Regions from separate parts of the Homo sapiens genome. Here regions 1 and 2 are each linked to region 3. The links come from fine-mapping of genetic effects on gene expression. A gene starts in region 3. Each other region holds a variant in brackets. All regions are shown on one strand. Distances are from middle to middle. Region 1 has its middle 6.2 kb from the start of SCYL1. Region 2 holds the start of GPHA2 (glycoprotein hormone subunit alpha 2). Region 3 holds the start of CDC42BPG (CDC42 binding protein kinase gamma).

Region 1 (7,469 bases), 670 kb after region 3:
ACGTGGTGAAGCCCCGTCTCTACTAAAAATACAAAAATTAGCCGAGTGTGGTGGTAAACACCTGCAATCCCAGCTACCGGGGAGGCTGAGACATGAGAATCGCTTGAACCCGGGAGACAGAGGTTGCAGTGAGCCATGATTGCACCCCTGCACTCAAGCCTGGGTGACAGAGTGAGACTCCGTCTCAAAAAAAAGTAATTGCAGTTTTTGCCATTAATACATACTGCATGATTCAATTTATATACAAATCTTTGTATTTTTAGTAGAGACGGGGTTTCACCCTGTTGGTCAGGCTGGTCACGAACTCCTGACCTCAAGTTATCCACCTCCCCTGGCCTCCCAAAGTGCTGGGATTACAGGTGTGAGCCACTGCACATGGCCAAGAGCATTTTTTTTTTTTTATAGAGACAAGGTCTTGCTATGTTGCCCAGGCTGGCCTCAAACTCCTGGGCTCAAGCAATCCTCCTTCCTCAGCTTCCCAAAGTGCTGGGATTACAGGCATGAGCCACCGTGCCTGGTCTCTGAGAGCATTTCTTGTGAAGTGCACTGGAAAAGCACAGAAGCAATGCTTTTTAACAAATTAATTAAATTAATTTATTTTTATTTCTTTATTTTGAGACAAGGTCTCACCCTGTTGCTCAGGCTGGAGTGCAGTGGTTGAATCATGGCTTACTGCAGCCTCAACCTCCTGGGCTCAAGCAATCCTTCTTCCTCGGCCTCCAAAGTAGCTGGGACTACAGGTGCACACCTCCATGCCTGGCTAATTTTTTGATATTTTGTTGAGATGAGGGTCCTACTCTATGGCCGAGGCTGGTCTTGAACTCCTGAGCTCAAGCGATCCTCCCACCTCAGCCTTCCAAAGTGCCAGGATTACAGGTGTGAGCCATCTTGCCAGGCTAGAAGCAATGCTTTCTGCCTGAATAATTCAGGGAAGGCTAGACAGAGCAGGGGACATTTGGAGTGAGATTCAAAGAATACGAATTTGCTGGATAGAAAAGACCAGGGCAGCCTTCCTCCAGAGAGAACAGCTTGAAAGTGAGAAATGTGGGGCACTGCAACCCAGAGTGGCTGGAAGGGAGGCTGAGAGAGGAGTTGGAGAAGGGGAGAGAGGAGAGGAGAGAGGAGGGGAGGGGAGGGGAGGGGAGGAGGAGCGACAGAGAGAGAGAGAGAGGCAGAGAGAGGAGAGAGAGAAAGGAGACAGAGAAACAGAGAGAGGAAAGACAGAGAGGAGAGAGAGTAGAGAGAGACAGAGAGGAGAGAGACATAGGAGAGAGATAAAAGAGAGAGAGAGGAGAAAGAGAGACAGAGAGGAGAGAGACCAAGGAGAGAGACAGGAGAGAGACAGAGAGAGAGCAGAGAGAAAGGAGAGAGAGAGATGGAGAGAGAGAGGAGTGAGAGTAGAGAGACAGAGGAGAGAGACAGAGAGAGAGGAGAGAGAGACAGAAAGGAGAGAGAGAGAGGAGACAGAAAGGAGAGAGAGAGACAGAGAGAGGAGAGAGACAGAAAGGAAAGAGAGAGAGACAGAGAGAGAGAGAGAGGAGAGAGAGAGAGAGAGAAGCTGGGGTAGGTTGGAGGGTAGTTAGGCCCTAGGACAGCAGATGAGTTAGGGGCTTGCCCCTGGGGAACAGATGGTGAGACTGATGATTCTGGCTGCAAGGTGGGGGATGATCACACTCAGTTCTAGCCACGTGCAGTTTGAGGAGGCTGGGCTGCGCGGGGGTCTGGGCCACGATGGGGGTGTAACTGATTTCTGAGTGGGAAATTCTGAGAGTCTTTGTTTGAAATATCTTTATTTTGCTCTCAGTTTTCATGACAGCTTAGCTGGGAATGGCATTTAGGTAGTGGTTGCCACTTGAAGATGTCTTTATGTTTAAAAAGTTATTGTTTTGTTTTGTTTTGTTTGAGGCAGAGTCTGGCTCTGTTGCCCAGGCTGGAGTGCAGTGGCGCGATCTTGGCTCACCACAACATCAGCCTCCCAGGTTCAAGCGATTCTCCTGCCTCAGCCTCCTGAGTAGCTGGGATTACAGGCACCTTGCCACCACGCACAGCTCATTTTTGTATTATTAGTAGAGACGAGGTTTCGCCGTGTTGGCCAGGCTGGTCTCAAACTCCTGACCTCATGTGATCTGCCTGCCTCAGCCTCCCAAAGTGCTGGGATTACAGGTGTGAGCCACCTCACCCGGCCAGTTTTGTTTTGTTTTGAGACAGGATCTGGAATGGCTTGCTCTGTTGCCCAGGCTGGAATGCAGTACCGTAATCATAGCTCACTGCAGCCTGAACTACTGGACTCGAGCAATACACCTGCCTCGGCCTCCCAAGGAAATGGGACTTTAGGCATGCACCACCACAACTAGCTGATTTTTAATTTTTTTTTTTTTTTTTTTTTTTTAGAGATAGGATCTCACTGTATTGCCCAGGCTGGTCCTGAACTCCTGGGCTCAAGCCATTCTCCTGCCTTGGCCCTCCAAAGTGCCAGGGTTATAGGCATAAGCCGCTGCACCTGGCCTGAACTTCTTTTCTTAGATTTATTCCTAGTAATTTATTCTTTCTTTATGTTATTAAAAATGGAGCCAGACGTGGTGGCTCACCTAAGTAAAACTTCACAGATGACATAATCTTGTATACAGAAAATCCTATGGAGTCTTTGAAAGCTATTAAAATTAATGAGTTCAGCAAGGTTGTAGGATGCAAGATCAACATACAAAAATCACTATAGCAGCGAACAATCTGAAAACATTCTTTTTTTTTTTTTTTTTTTTTTTACCTGACGACTCACTCTGTAGCCCATACTGGAGTGCAATGGCACGATCTCGACTCACTGCAACCTCGCCTCCCAGGTTCAAGTGATTGTCCTGCCTCAGCTTCCCGAGTAGCTGGGATTACAGGCACATGCCACCATGCCTGGCTAATTTTTTTTTTTTTTATTAAGTAGAGGTGGGGTTTCTCCATGTTGGTTGCTCTTGAACTCCTGACCTCATGTGTTCTGCCCACTTTGGCTTCCCAAAGTGCTGGGATTACAGGTGTGAGCCACTGTGCCTGGCCAGGTTCAGGTGACCTTCACGCCCCAGTTCAGACTACAGGAATGTGCCACCATGCCTGGCTGGTTTCTTTTTTCTTTTTACCGTGAAAGACTGGTGGATTGGCCCGGGCCCGGTGGCTCATACCTGTAATCCCAGCACTTTGGGAGGCCAAGGCCAGCAGATTACCTGAGGTCAGGAGTTCAAGACCAGCCTGGCCAACATGGCGAATCCCCGTCTATACTAAAAATACAAAAATTAGCTGGGTATGGTGGTGAATGCCTGTAATCCCAGCTACTCGGGAGGCTGAGGCAGGAGAATCGCTTGAACCCGGGAGGTGAAGGTTGCAGTGAGCTGAGATCGCGCTACTGCACTCCAGCCTGGGTGACAAGGTGAGACTCTGTCTGAAAAAAAAAGGAAAGACTGGTGGATTTTGTTAATTGCTTTTTCTGCTTCTATTGAGATGATCAGGTATTTTTTTGTTTTGCTTTTTATTCTATTAATAGTATGTATTACATTAATTAATTTTCAGATGTTAAACCAACCTTGTATTCCTAGGATAAATCCTATTTAATCATGATATAGAATTTTCCTTTTCTTTTTTTTTTTTTAAGACAGAGTTTTGCTCTTGTTGCCCAGGCTGGAGTACAATGGAGCGATCTCAGCTCACCGCAACCTCCGCCTCCCAGGTTCAAGCAATTCTCCTGCCTCAGCCTTCCCGAGTAGCTGGGATTACAGGCATGTGCCACCATGCCCGGCTAATTTTGTATTTTTAATAGAGACGGGGTTTCTCCATGTTGGTCAGGCTGGTCTTGAACTCCCAACCTCAGGTGATCTGCCTGCCTTGGCCTCCCAAAGTGCTAAGATTACAGGCATGAGCCACCGCGCCCAGCCTTTTTTTTTTTTTTTTTTTTTTTTAAACACAGGTTCCTGCTCTGTTGCCTAGACTAGAGTGCAGTGCCGCAATCATGGCTCATGTCTCACGGCTCACTGCAACCTCAACCTCTTGGGTGGGCTCAAGCAATCCTCCTGCCTTAGCCTCCTGAGTAGCTGGGACTACAAGCATGTGCCACCATGCTGGGCTAATTTTTTTCGTAGAGACTGAGTCTTGCTATGTTGTCTAGGCTGACCTCAAACTCCTGGCCTCAAGCAAGCTAACCACCTCAGCCTCCCAAGTGCTGGGACTATAGGTGTGAGCCACTGCACCGGCTAGAATTCTCCTGACTCAGCCTCCTGAGTAGCTGGGATTACAGGCAAGCCTGGCTAATTTTTTTTTTTTTTTTTTTTTTTTTTTTGTATTTTTAGTAGAGACAGGGTTTCACCGTGTTAGCCAGGATGGTCTGGATCTCCAGACCTTGTGATCCACCTGCCTTGGCCTCCCAAAGTGATGGGA[T/C]TACAGGTGTTAGCCACTGCGCCTGGCCTGCTCTGTAGTTTCTTGTGATGTCTTTATCTGGTTTTGTTATCAGGGTACTATTGATACCAGCCTAATAGAATGAGTTGGGAAGTATTCCCTCTTCCTCTTCCATTTTTTGGAAGTGTTTGTGAAGAATTGGTATTAATTCTTTAAATGTTTGGTAGAAGTTAGTAGTGAAGAAGTTACTAGTCATCTGGGCCTAGACTTTTCTTTGTAAGTAGGTTTTTAATTTTTTTTTGAGACAGAGTCTCACTCTGTCGCCCAGGCTGGAGTGCAGTGGCATGATATCGGCTCATTGCAACCTCCACCTACAGGGTTCAAGCTATTCTCTTGCCTCAGCCTCCCAAGCAGCTGGGACTATAGGTGTGTGCCACCATGCCTGGCTAATTTTGTATTTTTAGTAGAGAAGGGGTTTCATCATGATGGCCAGGCTGATCTCAAACTTTTGACCTCATGTGATCCGCCCGCCTTGGCCTCCCAAAGTGCTGGGATTACAGGTGTGAGCCACTGCACCTGGCCCATATTCACAGGTTCTGAGAGTTAGGACATGGACATCTTTGAGGGGCTAGTATTCTGCCGACCACAATAGGCCAGAACCCTGAACAGTTTACTTTTTAGGCATCATATTTGCTAAAAACAAAACAAACAAAAAAACCAAACCAAACAAAGAAGTAAAAATCAAAACAAACAAAAAACACAGAGCCATTTTTTGGAAAGACAATAATAGGAAGTCAAAATAATGTTAATTTTGGAGTTATTATTGTTTATTTTATTTTATTTTATTTTTGAGATGGAGTCTCCCTCTGTCCCAGGCTGGAGTGCAGTGGCGTGATCTCGGCTCACTGCAACCTCCGCCTCCCGGGTTCAAGCGATTCTCCTGCCTCAGCCTCCAGAGTAGCTGGAATTACAGGCGCATGCCACCACGCCCGGCTAATTTTTGTATTTTTAGTAGAGACGGGCTTTCAGTACGTTGGCCAGGCTGGTCTCGAACTCCTGACCTCGTGATCCACCCACCTCGGCCTTCCAAAGTGGTGGGATTACAGGCGTGAGCCACCAAGCCCGGCAGCTTGAAGTTATTCTTACATGCTTTGGCAGATGTTAAAACGTTTGTTTTTTTTAAAATTCTCAACATTTAGATCTAGGACAGAGCACAATTTAAATACTTTCTAAAATTAAATTTGGCTGTTACATAAGATTCAGCATTGTTTACAGCAGCTTTTCTGTTTCATGCGTTATAATATAAGATAAAGTAGAAAGAACACCAAAGGTTTTCCTATGATAAGTCATCAACAAAATAAGTGTGGGCCATTAGCAAGTAGCTCTTGATATCTTACAGTGGGCTGAACAACAAATACTTTCTCTTGAAGAATTTGGATCCCTGTTAGCTAAGCTTAAAGTTCCCACTATTTTATTTTATTATTTTATTTATTTATTTATTTTTGAGACGAAGTCTCACTCTTGTCCCCCAGGCTGGAGTGCAATGGCGCAATCTTGGCTCACTGCAACCTCCGCCTCCCAGGTTCAAGCAATTCTCCCTCAGCCTCCTGAGTAGCTGGGATTACAGGCATGTGCCACCACGCCAGGCTAATTTTTTTTTTTTTTTTTTTGAGACAGAGTCTCGCTCTGTTGCCCAGGCTGGAGTGCAGTGGTGCGATCTTGGCTCACTGCAAGCTCCGCCTCCCAGGTTCACGCCATTCTTCTGCCTCAGCCTCTGGAGTAGCTGGGACTACAGTCGCCTGCCACCACGCCCGGCTAATTTTTTTTGTATTTTTAGTAGAGACGGGGTTTCATTGTGTTAGCCAGGATGGTCTCGATCTCCTGACCTCGTGATCCGCCCGCCTCGGCCTCCCAAAGTGCTGGGATTACAGGCGTGAGCCACTGCGCCTGGCCTCGCCTGGCTAATTTTTGTATTTTTAGTAGAGACGGGGTTTCACCATGTTGGCCAGGCTGGTCTTGAACTCCTGACCTCAGGTGAGCCATCCGCCTCGGCCTCCCAAAGTGCTGGGATTACAGGCGTGAGCTACCGTGCCCATCCAAGTTCCCACTTTTTTTTTGAGATGGAGTCTCGCTCTGTCGTCCAGGCTGGAGTGCAGTGGTGCGATCTCGGCTCACTGCAACCTCCACCTCCCAGATTCAAGCGATTCTCCTGCCTCAGCCTTCCCAGTAGCTGGGATTACAGGTGCCCACCACCACACCTGGCTAATTTTTGTGTTTTTAGTAGAGACGGGGTTTCAACATATGTGTAGGGTCCAGCCCTACGGGGCTTAGCATGTGTTCTCCCCCTGTGTGGAGACTAGAGATTGTAATAAATAAAGACACAAGACAAAGAGATAAAGAGAAAACAGCTGGGCCCCAGGGACCACTACCATCAAGACGCGGAGACCGGTAGTGGCCCCAAATGGCTGGGCTCGCTGATATTTATTGTATACAAGACAAGGGGGCAGGGTAAGGAGGGTGAATCTTCTAAGTGATTGACAAGGTGAAGCAGGTCAGGTGATTACAGGATAGGGGGCCCTTCCCTTTTAGGTAGCCGAAGCAGAGAGAGAAGGCAGCATACGTCAGCGTTTTCTTCTCTGCTCTTATAAGAAAGATCAAAGACTTTAAGACTTTCACTATTTCTTCTACCTCTATCTACTACGAATTTCAAAGACGAACCAGGAGTATGGGAGGAGCATGAAAGTGGACAAAGAGCGTGAGCATTGAAGCACAGCACCACAGGGAGGGGTTTAGGCTTCTGGATGACTGCGGGCAGGCCTGGATAATATCCAGCCTTCCACAAGAAGCTGGTGGAGCAGAGTGTCCCCTGACTCCTCCAAGGAAAGGAGACTCCCTTTCGCGGTCTGCTAAGTAACGGGTGCCTTCCCAGACACTGGCGTTACCGCTTGACCAAAGAGCCCTCAAGAGGCCCTTATGCGGGCGTGACAGAAGGCTCACCTCTTGCCTTCTAGGTCACTTCTCACAATGTCCCTTCAGCACCTGACCCTATACCCGCCGGTTATTCCTAGGTTATATTAGTAATGCAACAAAGAGTAATATTA
Region 2 (7,378 bases), 90 kb after region 3:
AAGCCTCTACCTGCTGGGCTCAAGCAGTCCTCCCTTCTCAGCCTCCCGAGTAGCTGGGACCACAGATGTATGTGCCACATGCCTGGCTAATTAAAAAAAATTTTTTTTTTGTAGAGACAGTGTCTTGCTATGTTACCTAGGCTGGTCTCAAACTCCCAGGCTCAAGTGATTCTGCTGCCTCGGCCTCCCAAAGTGCTTGGATTACAGGCGTGAGCCACCACACTAGCCATATTATGGAACCTTTTGCAAAATTTATAAAGATGAGTTTGTTGACTGTCCCCACTCCCCGCGAGATCAGAGTTGTATTCCCAGCACACTGAATGTGATGCCTGGTACATCCTAGGCAGGTGATAAATGCTTGGTGAATAAGAAAGTAACAGGCCGTGGGTGAGCAGTATTTGGCATTCTGTCCTGGACAGCAAGTCCTTGGCGCCTGGTGCCTTCCTGACCTGTCTTCCTTCCCTCCACCTGTCACCCCCTGCAGCTGGCATACTGTGTGGTGCAGTTCCTGGAGAAGGATGCCACTCTGACAGAGCACGTGAGTACCTCTGGGGGCTAAGGCAGCCTCTCACCTCTGCAGGCGTGACTCCTGTCTCATCTCCCACAGGTGATCCGGGGGCTGCTCAAATACTGGCCAAAAACCTGCACCCAGAAGGAGGTATGAAGAAGGGCTTTGATGCCCGCCAGAGGGAGGCTGGGAGGGCTCGGCCTCTAGAAGGCAGTCAGGTGTGTGTATGTGTAGGGGGAGATGTGAGCTGCTGCCCCTCTGTCCCTACTCCCCTCCCCAACCCACCCAGGTGATGTTTCTGGGGGAGATGGAAGAGATTCTTGATGTCATCGAGCCCTCCCAGTTTGTGAAGATCCAGGAGCCCCTTTTTAAGCAGGTGGCTCGCTGTGTTTCCAGCCCCCATTTCCAGGTATGAGGCAGGACAGGCGGGGATGGGAGCAGGGCTGGCCTGGAAAGGTTGGGTAGCTGACCTAATAAAGCTCCCTTTGCCCTCAGTTTCTCCTCCAATCCCGGGTCTGGTAATGGGGAGATGCTGGACTTAGGGTCAGGAGACCTAGGGTGAAGCCTCGGACCTGCCTTCCACTGGCTGAGGGGCCTTGAGCAAATCACTGCACCACTCTGATTCTGATTAAGCTTCCGCAGCTGTAAAATGGGCCAACAACCTCTTCACAGGGTGGGGATAAGGATGGAAGAGATTGTGAGTGTAAACATGTTTGGTAAACTGAAGTGTGATCCAGAATGTGATGGAGGACTGTTATCACTTTTCCCCTTTTGCTAGTGGCCTTAGATTTCATTAGACTCGCTTTGGGATGCAGCCAGGCTTCCCCGCACCAACCCAGCTAACTAACTCATGTTCTGCTGCAAGCATGTGCAGACTTCCTCCCGTTCTTATGGGCCATAACCCAGTGGAAGTCAAGTCTTCCTCACAGTGATTCTGGCACTTCGGTTCATTAAACACCTAAAAGTCTAGTATCTCATTTGATTCTTATAACATCCTGTTGAGATAGGTATTATTAGCCCATTTTACAGATGAGAAAACTGAGGCTGGGAGGTTAAATGCCTCTCCCAAGGTCACATGGCATAGTAGAGTCTGTAGTGGTTAGGATTCACCCCGCAGCATTGGATTCCGTATCTAGAACTCTTTTCCCTTCAACACTGTTGCTTCCTCCAGGGCTCAGATAAGCCCTGAAGGTGGGGTGTGTGAAGGTCAGGGGGCCTGGGCGTTGAGGTAGTGATGGACACCAGACCTTGCACACAGAGAGAAGCCACTGCCAGTTAATCACTCTGCCATCTTGTCTGCCCCAGGTTGCAGAGCGGGCTCTGTATTTCTGGAACAATGAGTATATCCTAAGCCTCATTGAGGACAACTGCCACACTGTGCTGCCTGCTGTGTTTGGGACCCTCTACCAAGTCTCCAAGGAGCACTGGAACCAGTGAGTGCCAGGCCATGACCTAACTCACAGAAACTGGGACCAGGGCCAGCCAGTCCAGACCCGACCCCAGGGTTACTCCTAGCTGGAGAATATCAGAGAAAGCATCAAAAGATGGCCCAGGGGTGGTGAAAAGGACAGGAAAGTGGGCAGTGCTTGTGTTCAGGTGGAATGCTGTATGTGAAGGGCAGGGAAAGGGAGAGGTGGGCAAACCAAAGCTGTTTCATCTCCTCATCCCTCCTTGACACTGCCAAGAACCATCGTATCACTGATCTACAATGTGCTCAAGACCTTCATGGAGATGAATGGGAAGCTGTTTGATGAGCTCACAGCCTCCTACAAGCTGGAAAAGCAGCAGTGAGTGTTGGGGGCTGGGCGTGGGGGAAGGGAGAAGAGCAGGGAGGAGTCAGACCCCCATGGCTGGAGGGAACCCGAGGACTACCCCAAACTCTGTCTGATCAGATGCTGCAAGACTGTCCATGCTCCTGCCATCCTATGCCTGACTGTCTGCCCCTGTATCCTCCCGTCATTCTTCGAGTAGCTCAGACTTGTTCTGACTCCCTGTAGCTTCCTACAGAAGCCAGAACCACTCAGGCCCCACCCGTCATCTTCTCTGTGACTGCAGGCTGGGATCTGTCTGTCCTCTGCTCTCTTCCCTCAGTAGAGGGTTTTTATGGAGTCACAGAACAAAAATGGTTCCATGCCTTCCCTTTGCCGGTGGGGTGGTAGTGAGGGAGTCTGGACTGTGAGGGAGTCTGGACTGTGGGGGGCCCCAGGAAAGGGAGCTGCCTCACCCTCTCTCCCCAGGGAGCAGCAGAAGGCCCAGGAGCGTCAGGAGTTATGGCAAGGTCTGGAGGAGCTGCGGCTACGCCGGCTACAGGGGACCCAGGGGGCCAAGGAGGCCCCCCTCCAGCGGCTTACACCCCAGGTGGC[C/T]GCCAGTGGGGGTCAGAGCTAGACAGCACCTCAGAAGGGGAAAAGCTAAACCCAGAGCTGTCAGTCCCTCTATCCCTTCTCCTGTCCAGGGGCCCAGAGAGAAACACACCTACCCCTGGCCTTGCCAGAGTGGCTTCTGAGGACTCCCTGCCCAGCCCAGCTTTCACTGGGGGGAGACGAGGAGAGGCAATGGTGGTCTTGGCAACAGAATGCTCAGCCCCTCGTGGCAGGACTTGACAAGGGCAAGCTTGACCAGGAAGCTGCCATCAGGGATCTTCCCCTGCCCCGCAAAGCTAGGCTCCAGCTGCAGGCGGGCTCCCACCCTCTGCTCCTGGCCTTGGGCAAGGGCACTCAGCGCCTCGCCTGCCCCTGCCTTGGCCAATGCGAGGTCCTTCCTTATCCCCACCATGGGGTCCATGGTCTATTTATTCTCGCCCAGCTCACCCTCTACACAGACACTGTCCTGGGTGCACACTCCTCCCTTCCCTCGCTGTGTACTTCCTTGTCCCCTTTTTATTTATTGGGCAGGGGGAGGGGGAGGGCACAGGCAAGAAGAGATTCACAGTGTCCTGGGGTAAGGGGGGGTTCACAGTAATCATGGTCTACTCCTCTTTCCGTGGCTGGGGGTAGACTTAATAAAGAGAGAAATTCAAGAACTGCTTGCTTTATTTAGGGGTAAGGGCAAAGAGGGAAGTAAAATGATGAAAGATTGGTTTAGAAGGGCCAGGCAGAGGCAGGGAAGAAGCAGAAACTCCCCTCTTCTCAGGTGACAGTCACAAAATCTTACAAAGGATCAAAGCTGGAACAACCCTCCCCTTATTTAAAAAAATTCCATAGCAAGTAACCATCAGGGCTGGAGCTCCTTCCAGTTTTTGAATCTTGAACACAGGTTTCCCCCACCAGAACGTCAAGCCCTGTGACCCAGGGGAGGAAGGAGGGGAGAGGATGGGCTAGTAGCGAGAGAGGCGACACATGTCACACTGGCAGGCCCTGGCCGTGAAGATCTCGAGCTCCTCCCTCCGGCTCCCCACACACTGCAGCTGTACTTTGACCTGCGGGAGAGGGGAGTCCGTGCTGCAGTCCCCTTTCTCAGGGCTGTCTAGGATCTCCATCTCTCTGGTCTTCCCGCGACCCCAGCGTCCATCCACCGGGCCCGGGCCCTCCTCACCTTCTTCAGGCCACTGATGGTGCAGCACTGAGAGACGGAGGTGATGTTGTGTCGGTAACCACTGGCCACCAGCACAGAGTACCGAGAAGGGAAGGCGCTGGACTCACAGTGGCCCACACAGGCCTGTGCCACGTGGGAGCCCTGGCAGGTGCCTTGGCGGTCACTTCGCACTGTCACATTGAAGGCTAGAAGGAGATAGGCAAGCAGTAGACGGCGCCTCTGCCAAGGTTTGCCTCGCCCCAGCTCCCGTTGCCTGTGCCTCAGTGTGGGGCCCTTTAGGGTGCTGCCTGCCCCACCGTCCACTCAGCTCTTTGCTCCCACCCAGAACCTCCACTGCTCCTAGCCCTCCGGTCCCAGAGGTACTCACGGTGCAAGTGGCAGCCTGGGATGACTGCCTCCTGGCCCCAGGCTTCAGTGACTGCCAGGACCAGCAGATAGAGGACCAGGGTTTGAGGGGACGCCATAGGCATCTGAAACACAGTGGGGAGATGTCTCTACGTGGGTGTGCAGGTGGGATGGCGAGTTCTTTAAATACTGCATTCCAGGTGAGTGAGCCAGGGCTGGCTGGTCTGACAGGTGAGGTGTGCCTGAATGGTGCTGCCTTTTCCCTGTATCTGCCTTTGTGTGTGTGTGTGTGTGTGTATGGGTGTGAGTGTGAGCAGCTGTCTCTGGAAAGGACCTGTGTGTCAGCCCTCTGTGCAGTGATTCTCCCTTCCCTGGAATTTTCTTCGCCATCTGGAGCGCAAACATCTTCCTCCCTCCATCTGCCCCATCTTGGCCTGCAGGGCCCTCGTCCACATTCCCAGACCCTCCCCAGAGCTCCTCCTGCCTCAGCGAGCTCACCACTTCCGAGGCCCAGGAACAGAGCGGCTTGCAGTTTTCCTGTGCCTCCTGCTGGTCTCCAGCTTGGTGCTGGCTCTCCAGGCTTTTATTTGCCAGCATTTTGGAGCCACGCCCTCTTGGAGATCGGCTTTCAAACCAGCCTCCCCTGCCTGAAGCCTCAGAGCGATCCCACCTGGGGGATCTTGCTCTTTGAGGTGCGGTCCTCGGAGAGCAGCTCCTGCTGCTTTCTGCTTCTTTCTGTCCAAAAAGCTACCCACAGCCCAGGCCTCGATAAGTCAGATGTGGAGAGAAGCCTAGGAGCTGGTGGAGTGTGCAGCGTGTGTGCAGCTGACGACACAGGGGTCAAGACTCTTGGCTGAGTTGTGGACACCTGGGTTCTCTTTGCTCTGTGACCTTGGACAGAACATTTCCCTGTTCAGGGCCTGATCACCCCTAACTTTATTATTATTTATTACTATTATTTTGAGAGGGTCTGGCTCTGTCACCTAGGCTGGAGTGTGGTGGTGTTATCTCGGCTCACTGCAACCTCCACCTCCCAGCCTCCCAGACTCAAGCCATCCTCCCCCTTAGCCTCCTGAGTAGCTGGGACCACAGGCACACCACTATGACCAGCTAACTTTTGTATTTTTTTGTAGAGACAGGATTTTGCCATGTTGCCCATGGTGGTCTTGAACTGCTAAGCTCAAGTGATCCGCCTGCTTAGGCCTCCCAAAGTGCTAGAATTACAGGCATGAGACACTGTGCCTGGCCACACCCCTAATTTTAAAACCACTAAACTCAGTCCTGCTTGCCTTTTTCTAACTGCAAAGGAAAGGGATTGGGGAAGGAGATTCTTAGGGACAAGGGAAATTATACCAGTGGAGGTCTCCTGAGATGTGCTTGGTGGCAGGGCCGGGGGTTTGGGGGTTGCTGTCTGTTTCAGAGTTGCATGGCCACGGTATCAGTGGATGATTCGCATCCTGTGCTACAGAGTAACGTTCTGAGCTGGAGTGCTCCCCTAGCCCTGGAATAACAGGGACCTGACTCCTGAAAGGGCCTGAAGTTATCAACCCCAGCAAAGCTGATCTATTTGTCCAACTCTGGTTTTATAGATGAGGCAACTAAGGCTCAAAGAAAGAAAGTTACTAAAAGTCACCCAGCTAGTTAATGTTAGGGCTGATTTCAAATTCAAATCTGCTGTCCATCCATGGTGCTAAACTACACTTGAGCAAGAATGTGGCAAGCTGGAGAAAGACCCCCAGGCAGCAGTGGCCAGAGGGGTTGGGGCAAGGTGGAGAGCCAAAGGAAGCCTGTGGTGATTCTGGGCAGCCCCGCTTTGGGGTCATTGCCTCACTGATCTGCTCAGAAAGAGCAGGGCCAGTCACAGACTGCTAGAGCTAGAAGGCACTTTATAACTCACCAAATCCTACCCCCTCATTTTCTGGATGAGAAAATAAGAGCTCAGCGGAAAACAACTTCCCAAAGCTTCACTGTAAGCTAGTCAGAGTCAGGGCGGGCACTCACAGCTCCAGATTTGGAGCTGTGCTTCTTAGCAGCTTTGTAAAACAGGCCATGTTTGGGACAGTCGAGTAAAGGCTGTAAACGCAATTTGAGAGGAAGTGATGTTACTAATGTCACTAATCCTTAAATTCCCACACCCTACGGTTTCCCCATCAGCCCCCATCCCCTCAAGACCTGGGTCCTTGTTTGCCAGGTCCTCCGCAGCAGTCCACCTCTTCTCTTCTCCCCACCAAGGGTGCAGGCAGCATAGCAACAGGACGCAGCGGGAACTCAGCAGTTCAGCCCCTGCTCTCCCACTCTTGAGGGGCACCCTCTGGCATGTGACAGATGATGGCTTCTGTTTAAAGCATTTGGGTGACAAGGCTCATTACCTTATGAGGTAGCCCATTCTAATATTGGACATCTCTAACAGGTAAAAAGTGACTCCTTTGTTGTGAGCTAAAATGAGTTTCCCTACATTTCCATAGATCATTTTGGTTCTCCACGGCCACATGAGGCTAAAGTGTCTATTACAGATCAGTCCTTTAGTTGAAGGCAGCTCAGGTGGCCAGGCCTTCTCCAGGGGTGCCAACCTGGATTGACTTCCAGTTAATCTGATAAACGAATCTGCATTACTGTCAAACAGTTAAAGGGATAGAGAGGTGGGAAACATTTTGTCTATGGAGAGGCAACCATTTGGGGCCAAACTGGAACTGGGGAAGAGGTCTCTTGGGTGAGCAGGGCTCAGGACAGTGAGTCTTGAAAGACCCCATTCCCTAACCTCTGGCACAAACTCACCTACCCAAAGTGATCCTGTGAATAGTAACCAGGTAGACCTAGGGAAGTTTCATGCATTTTCTCTGTATCTTGAGGGAAGCATTTGTTCTCTTTTACTCTATTCCACTAAATTCAATCAATAACTCTTCATAAATAATTTATTGTCATTAGGATCCTAAGTGCCGAAGACAAAAGGCCTAAACCGGCCCTCAGGACATGAACATTTTAGAAAGTTCCATT
Region 3 (7,469 bases):
GGTTGCAGTGAGCCAAGATAGCACCGTTGAACTCCAGCCTAGTTGACAGAGCAAGATTCCGTCTCAAAAAAAAAAAAAAAATTTAAAAAATTAAATAAAGGGTTTATTGTGAGAAAGATAACAAATCAGTGGCTGCTGAGGGTGGCACCCTTTGCCTGGTCTGCAGCCTTGCCCGCCCCCCCCGCGCCATAGGCCCTGGCAGCATACACCTCCCCCACACCCATTTGTAGGGTGCCCAAGGGCCCCCCAGACTCCACACTGACCTCAGCCCTCTTCAGCATCTCCCACTTGTGCAGCATTTTCATGGCAAAAATCTGCCCAGTGTCCCTCTGCCTCACCACGGTGACCTAAGGCCACAGGGAGGACCGGGGTGAGCCCAGCCCGGTGTGAACACCTCCCCCCACCTACCCCAGGCCCTTTGCTCACCTCCCCAAAGGCTCCTCGGCCGATCACCTTCAAGATCTCAAAGTCATCTCTCTGCAGACGCAGTTCTTTCACCTTTGATACGAAGGGGCTGGCTGAGGGGACACAGGGCGGGACTCAGAGTGCAGGGAGGGAGGGCTCCATTCCCCCTCTCACCTTGGGCAAGCCAGGAGCTGCCGCTCCTGTGAGCCCAGGCAGGGATGACCTCCCCAGGGACAGCCTCGGGCCAAGGGGTTGTGGCAGGAACTGGTGCTCCTTTGGCCATGATCAGGAAGTGCGGAAGGTCAGAGGCCGGGCTCAGCTGACCGCCTGGTCCCTGGACCTCCCTGGACCCCTGGCCCCAGACTCTAGGCAGCCTCCATCCCAGGGGCTGATGGGACTTGTAGTCCTGCCCAGTCTGCGGCCTGACTCTGCTTGGCCAGGTCACCCTGGGGACCATGGGGACACCATTCCTACCCCCACCTCACAGTTCTTGGCCCCCTCACAGGTTCAGGCCAGGGCCTGTCTTAGGAAACTGGACGGGTGACATTCCTTATCCCCAGAGAGGCTTCTCTCCCATTCAGGAGCTGTGGGCCTGGGTCCCGGGACCCTGTAGGCATAGAGGTGCCTGGTTGGGGGTGAGGCCTGCAGCCCCTAGGGCAGGGAGGACAGGCTCTATGCTTCCCACGTGGGGCCCCTCAGGCTGGAGGCATGGATGCCAGTCTGCCAAGGTGCTGAGACTCACAAACAGGACAAAGATGCCTTTCCCTGGTGCTAGCACTAGCCCCTGAAGGCGTGAGTGCTCAGGATGCCTCCAGGCCTGACCGGCTCTCTCACTCCCAGCCCTGCCTCCCTGTCTGGACGAAGCTTTTGTCTGGTCAAGAACGTCCTCTTTCCTCACATCCCAGATACCTCCAGGAAGGGCAACTCCAGCCACTCCCAGGCACTTTCCAGGCCTGGATTAGCCCCAGGTTTTGGGAAGGAATTGGGTCTTAGGGAGGCAGGAGTGATCAGTCAGGATGGGGGGCAGCTGTGGTCTGGCGCCCTGCCTCAGTTTCCCCCTGCCAGGAGGTAAACTCCCTGCCAGCTGGGCGGGTCTGTGGGTGGGACAGAGAGCTGTTCCACAGGTTTATCAGGCAGAAGCCCGCAGCGGGGGCGGGGTGGAAACCTCATTACAGAAATTCATTGTCTCTTTCCCAGGTCTGTGTGTGGAGCTGGGGAGGAGCAGCCCCGGGCCTCCCCGTGGGAGTTGAAGCCAGCACCATAGGGACCCACCCGCCAGAAGAGGGCCGAAGCCCAGGCCCACAGGCAGGAGGATCCAGGCCCCTGGACAGGCTGCCTAATCCTCTGGCCTCCCACAGGGCATGGGGGCTCCGGGCAGGAGCAGGGACAAGTAGAGACAAGCAGGAGAGGAATGAGTCACAGCCCTTTGAGTTACCTTGGGAGATTGTCAACAGAGGGCCCCCATGCCGGGGTCCCAGGCAGAGGTGCTGGAGGCAGTCAGGGAGGAGCACACATGTGTGTGCAAACACACACACGTGTGTGGGTGTCATGGGGGGGGTGACAACAACACAGGCAGACAGGCATAGCACGGAGGCATACCAGGGAGACAGGCACAGAGGCAGGGGCCTCTGACTGCCTCGCCCTGGATGGAAGGGTTGGGGCTAGGGGACAACTCCCTGGCACATCTAGGTGGCAGCCTCCCCCTCTACCCCAGGCCTTGTGCCTTCCCAGAGCTCAGGAGTGCCAGGAACGCTAGTTGCCCACTGGGCAAACACCTGCCTCACCCCGCCCTGGCCAGGCCCCCGTGCCTTTTCCCCATGGCCCGGCAGGGTGTGACCAGGGAACCCTCCAGCTGGCGCCAGTGCCCACAGTGGGTTCAGGGTCACCCCGGGCCAGCCACTCCCAATGACTCAGATGAGTCTACCAGGAAAGGTACAGACCCATCTCCAGCTAGGCCCCCCTCCCCGGCCCCGGCGCCACAGCCCCCAAGGAGCTTGGCCAGCAGCCTGCACAGGCCAAGGGTTGGAGATCGGTTCCTGAGTCCAGGCTGCAGTGGTCTTGTACCCAGGGAGCTGGGGGTGTGTGTGTTGGTGGGGGGAAGGTCTGCAAGTGTGCGATACCTACAGATCTGTGTGTTTTGCAGTGCCAATGCGGTCGGGGTGGTCTGCAGCGCTCCCTGGGTCTCTCCATGAGTTGTGTGTCTCAATGCATCCGAGAGGAAGGAGAAACAGAGCCCGTGTATCAGTGGGTGACATGCATGAGGGTCTGTGTGTGTCCTGCGTCAGGTGTGGCCTGTAAGCAAGGAAATCTGTAAGGGACTCTAGGCGGTGCACTGGGTACATGCGTCTGCGGTCGATACCTGAGCACAAGTTGGTATGTGTGTGCATGTGTCGGGGTCTGTGAGAGGGAGAGAGCGTGTGTGAGAATTGGAGTGAGGGTGAGGTGTGCAGGCGAGTGTGCGGGCCGCGGGGGTCCGGTGGTACGCGTCAGGGCCACTGCAGGGAGTCTGCGAGGGAAGCCCGTGGGGGTGCGGGTCCCTGCGGGAAAGTCTGCGGGTGCGGGGGTCTCGGCGCGATATCCCTAGGCCCGCCCCCGCTCCGTGCCGCCCCGCCACTCACCCCAGCTCAGGAACTGCGCCACGCTGCGCTCCCGCCGTAGGGGGCCGCTGCTGAGCTCGTGGTGCAGCGCCAGCAGCAGATCTAGGAGGCCGTCGAGCCCCGGGCAGCCGCCGGCCTCGCCCCGCGCCAGCTGCTCCAGCGCGCGCAGCCGCCGCTCCATGGCTGCGGCCGGAGCCTCGCTGCTCGGCTACAGTCTGGCCGCCCGCATGCCCGCCTGTCGGGCCGTCCGTCCGCCCAACCGTCTGAGGCTCTGTCCGCGCGTCCTCCCCCGCCCCTCTCCCGCCCTCCCCGCTGTCACCTTCCTCCGCCGCCGCCAGCGCGCCCTCACCTGGGCGCCGCGCCCCGCCCCCCGACGGACGGGCAGGTGCGCGCCGGCCAATGGGAGCCGCGGCTAGAGGTGAAGGTGGGGGCGGAGGCGCGCGGGGGCGGGCCCAACTCCCGGCCAGGAAGTGCGGGGGCGGGCCGGGGAGAACAACTGACTTCTGCGCGGGGCGCGGTGGGGTTCTGCGGGGTCGGAAAGACTCCCCAGATCCCCGCGCGGCCCCAGACCCAGACTTACCTGGGCCCTCCCTGGGCCCTGACCCAGGAGGCGCGGAGCACTGCAACTTCTCTCGCCCCCTGGGTCGCAGCCGCCTTGCCCTTGGCTAAGAGAGAGGGGCTAGGGACGCCCGCGGCCCCGGAGCCGGATGGGAATTGTAGTTCGCTCTCTCCATGGTTTGCCCGCGCTTGGCACCCATCGCCCCCCCGCCCCCGCCCAAAAAAAAGTTTCTGAATCTTACTTTGATTGTATCATTAGAGTTGATGTGGGAGACAGGAAGTTGGGGTAGGGATGGTCACGCCCATTTGGCAGATGGACACACTGAGGCTTGGGAAGGAGGAAGGCGAATTGAGGGGCTGAGGACAAGGTGGCTCTTAAGTTAGACCCTGGGGTGGAGGTGGAGCTGGGCTGGTACCAACACCACAGGCGTTTTAAGCTTCAGTAGGAGCAGGGCCTGAGGTCTGACCTGGAACGTGAAGGGCAAGGAGAGGTCTGAGATAGGCTGGAGGAGGTTGGGGAGGGGAGGGGCTGGCTCTGTCCAGTGGTATTTCTGATTTCTGTCCAGCTGGGATGGACCAGGCACCATGAGGAGAGATCAAAGGGTGGGACATATTGGTGGCTTCAGACAACACTTTTTTTTTTTTTTTTTTGAGACAGGGTCTCTCTGTCACCCATGCTGGAGTGCAGTGATGCAATCATAACTCACTGCAGCCTTGACCTCTTAGGCTCCTGCCTCAGCCTCTTGAGTAGCTGGGATTACAGGCAGATGCCACCACACCCAGCTGATTTTTTATTTTACTTTTTGGAGTCAAGGGTTATTGTTATGTTGACCAGGCTGGTCTCGAACTCCTGGGCTCAGGTAATCCTCCCACCTTGGCCTCCCGGAGTTCTGGGATTACAGACATGGGCAACTACACCCGGCCTAGACAACACTTCTTTCTCTTTTTTGAGACAGGGTCTCACTCTGTCCCCTAGGCTGGAGTGCAGTGGTGCAATCGTAGCTCACCACAGCCTCAACCTCCTGGGTTCAAGTGATCCTCCCACCTCAGCCTCCCGAATAGCTGAGACTACAGGCTCACACCACTAGGCCAGGCTGATGTTTTGTTTTTTGAGATGGTGTCTCACGCTGTCACCCAGGCCAGAGTGCAGTGGCACGATCTCGGCTCACTGCAACCTCTGCCTCCCAGGTTCAAGAGAGTCTCCTGCCTCAGCCTCCCAAGTAGCTGGGATTATAGGCATGTGCCACCACACCCAGCTAATTTTTGTATTTTTAGTAGAGATAGGGTTTTGCCATGTTGGCCAGGCTGATCTCAAACTCCTGACTTCAGGTGATCCTTCTGCCTCGGCCTCCCAAAGTGCTGGGATTACATGCGTGAGTCACTGGGCCCAGCCATGTTTGTATTTTTTATAGAGATGGGGTTTCGCCATGTTGCCTAGGCTGATCTCAAACTCCTGGACTCAAGTGATCTGCCTGCCTCAGCCTCCCAAAGCGCTGGGATTACAGGCTGTAGCCACTGGCCAACACATTATTTCATTAAAAGACCTGTTTAGGGGTTTGCCTCTCCTCTCGTACTGGGACCTCGCTGAGATGGGGGCAGGATCAGGTTGAGGGAGGAGGTGTTCCATGAATGTTTGAAGCAAACAGGGTGTTTCTCCCCACGAAGGGTTTTTCATGTGATTATTTGTTTATTTATTTATTTATTTTAAAGAGACAGGGTTGCACTATATTGCCACGTTGGCCAAGCTGGTCTGACCTCAGGTGATCCGCCCACCTCGGCCTCCCAAAGTGCTGGGATTACAGGCATGAGCCACCATACCCAGCCTTTTTTTGAGACAGGGTCTTGCTCTGTCACCCAGGCTGGAGTGCAGTGATGCAATCTCAGCTCACTGCAGCCTCAACATACTGGGCTCAAGTGATCCTCCCACCTCAGCCTCCTGAGTAGCTGGGACCGCAAGCCTGCACCACCACGCCTGGTTAATTTTTAATTTTTTTTTTAGAGCTGGGGTCTCTCTACATTGCCCGGGGCTGGTCTCAGACTCGCCCTGCCTCCCATGTGATCTCCCCAGAGGCCCGCCCTGTAGCTACGCAGGGCCCATGGGCTGAGAAATGTTTGGGGAAACAGAGTCTGGGTGTATTACCTAAATCAACCAGAATGGGATGGGGAGCCAGGATTCAAACCAAACTCTGGGGATCCCCTTCATTGCCTCTGGTCTCCTGGAAGGGGGAGGGGGCAGGAGTTCAGATCCCTCTCACCTGAGAGATTCTGAGCCCTCCTTATAGGGGCGGGGCAGGGGTGGAGCCCACAGGAGGTAGGAAGGGGCTTGCTCACTGAGGCCACACGGGGGCGCCAGAGACCAGAGGAGGGACAGGCGCTCCAGCCAGCATTAGGGAACCGGAGATAGGGAAGGGCTCCTGGGTGGGAAGATGGGCCTCTCCTCCGCTGCCCCTCGTGGACACCCCTGGTGAGGCCTCTGGGCCCTGCCTCACTCCCTGTGTGACCTCAGGCAAGTCCCTTAACCTCTCTGGTAAGTTCTCAGAAAGGTTCATCCCCAGCCATCTGTCCATCCCCACACAGTATAGCTGAGTGGACACTGAGTCCCAGGGCTGAGGCCAGGGCTGCACGGGGCAGGGCTGGGACTGGCATTCGGCACCTCCCGCCTCTCACACGTGATTCTTTCTGGTCCTTTATTAGTTTTTGTCACATCTGTCTTGTAAGCCTCAATTTCCTTGTCTGTAAAAGGGGGTTGGGTCCGGGCATGGTGGCTCATGCCTGTAAGCCCAGCATTTTGGGAGGCCGAGGTGGGAGGATCACTTGAGCCCAGAAGTTCAAGATCAGCCTGGGTGACATAGTGAGACCTCATCTCTACAAACGAACTTAAAAATTAGCTGAGTGTGGTGGTGAGAGCCTGTAGTTCCAGCTACTCGGGAGGCCAAGGTGGGCGGATCACTTGAGCCCAGGAATTCAAGACCAGCCTGGTCAACATGGCAAAACCCTGTCTCTACTAAAAATACAAAAATTAGCCTGGAATGGTGACACACACCTGCAGTCCCAGCTACTCGGGAGGCTGAGAAAGGAGAATCACTTGAACCTGGGAGGCAGAGCTTGCAGTGAGCTGAGATTGTGCCACTGCACTCCAGCCTAGGTGACAGAATGAGACCATGTCTCCAAAATAAATAAATAAATAAAAATAAAGGGGGAGGGTTGGGCCCCCTGCTCATTCCTTTGCAGCTCCAATGGAAGGAAGTCTGTAAAGGCTCAGTCTCTTTCTGAGCTTATTCCAGCCTTAGCAAGCAGCCAGGCCTCCAGCCCTGACTGCCCGAAGCAGCTCCAGGGCATGGCACCATGTTGGCTCAGCAGATCTGTTTTCTGATCCTGTGGGGCCAGACCACTAGGGCCACAGCAGCCTTGACACGCTCCCCACAGAGCCCTGAGCATGGCACAGCCCAAGGCCCAGCTCACAGGGATGGGTGAGTCTTGACAGGAGACACCCCCGAGAGCCTCAGTCACACCCTGTCCAGGCAGTCAGGCCACCCTCTTTCCTTTCCTTCTCACCAGGGTACCTTCATTCAAATGCCTCCTCCATGGTCGACTACTCCCCAGGTGCAGGAGGGCTCAGCTACCCCCCGCAGCCTCTCACTCATCCCGCAAGCCCCTTGGTACTGAGGGACATCACTAGCTCTCTCACCCAGCTCTGTGGGGAGCACTCATGCTGATAACAGCTTGCAAGTGTAAGGGGCCTCTTGGTAACTTAAAGTGACTTTAGATCTATTATCTTCACAAGGGCCACACTAGGAGAGAGTTATTACCCTCCTTTATAGACTAATGCATGGAAGCTGGGGAGGGAGGTGGTGCCAGCCTTGAGCTCCTTCCTTGAGTGCAGACTCGCCCTGCAGAGGGCAGGTGTGT

Evidence for each region. PIP is the estimated chance that this variant, and not a neighbour inherited with it, causes the effect.
Region 1: its variant is the best candidate, but not a certain one, in a credible set for the expression of CDC42BPG in whole blood (TOPMed, PIP 0.65).
Region 2: its variant is the best candidate, but not a certain one, in a credible set for the expression of CDC42BPG in whole blood (INTERVAL, PIP 0.79).

The regions. Positions count from the first base shown.
Region 1 is chr11:65,515,147-65,522,615 of GRCh38, forward strand. No RefSeq gene overlaps it. Among named protein-coding and RNA genes, the nearest start is that of SCYL1, 6.2 kb to the right of the region's middle. The variant T/C (reference allele first, on the strand shown) is at 4,411.
Region 2 is chr11:64,930,952-64,938,329 of GRCh38, forward strand. PPP2R5B (protein phosphatase 2 regulatory subunit B'beta) reads left to right here. Exons shown (of 14, transcript NM_006244.4): 9 at 485-538; 10 at 608-658; 11 at 798-917; 12 at 1,814-1,941; 13 at 2,194-2,295; 14 at 2,746-3,524. The coding sequence ends at 2,893. It overlaps GPHA2 (glycoprotein hormone subunit alpha 2), which reads right to left and starts at 4,942. Exons shown (of 4, transcript NM_130769.4): 1 at 4,883-4,942; 2 at 4,407-4,509; 3 at 4,040-4,224; 4 at 3,520-3,923. The coding sequence starts at 4,509. The coding sequence ends at 3,822. It overlaps MAJIN (membrane anchored junction protein), which reads right to left. Exons shown (of 11, transcript NM_001037225.3): 11 at 7,279-7,378. The variant C/T (reference allele first, on the strand shown) is at 2,872.
Region 3 is chr11:64,841,387-64,848,855 of GRCh38, forward strand. It overlaps CDC42BPG (CDC42 binding protein kinase gamma), which reads right to left and starts at 3,267. Exons shown (of 37, transcript NM_017525.3): 1 at 3,024-3,267; 2 at 427-518; 3 at 264-347. The coding sequence starts at 3,183. RefSeq lists enhancers at 305-1,117, 1,611-1,905, 1,930-2,742, 6,153-6,222 and silencers at 2,957-3,006, 3,037-3,086, 3,097-3,446, 5,763-5,852.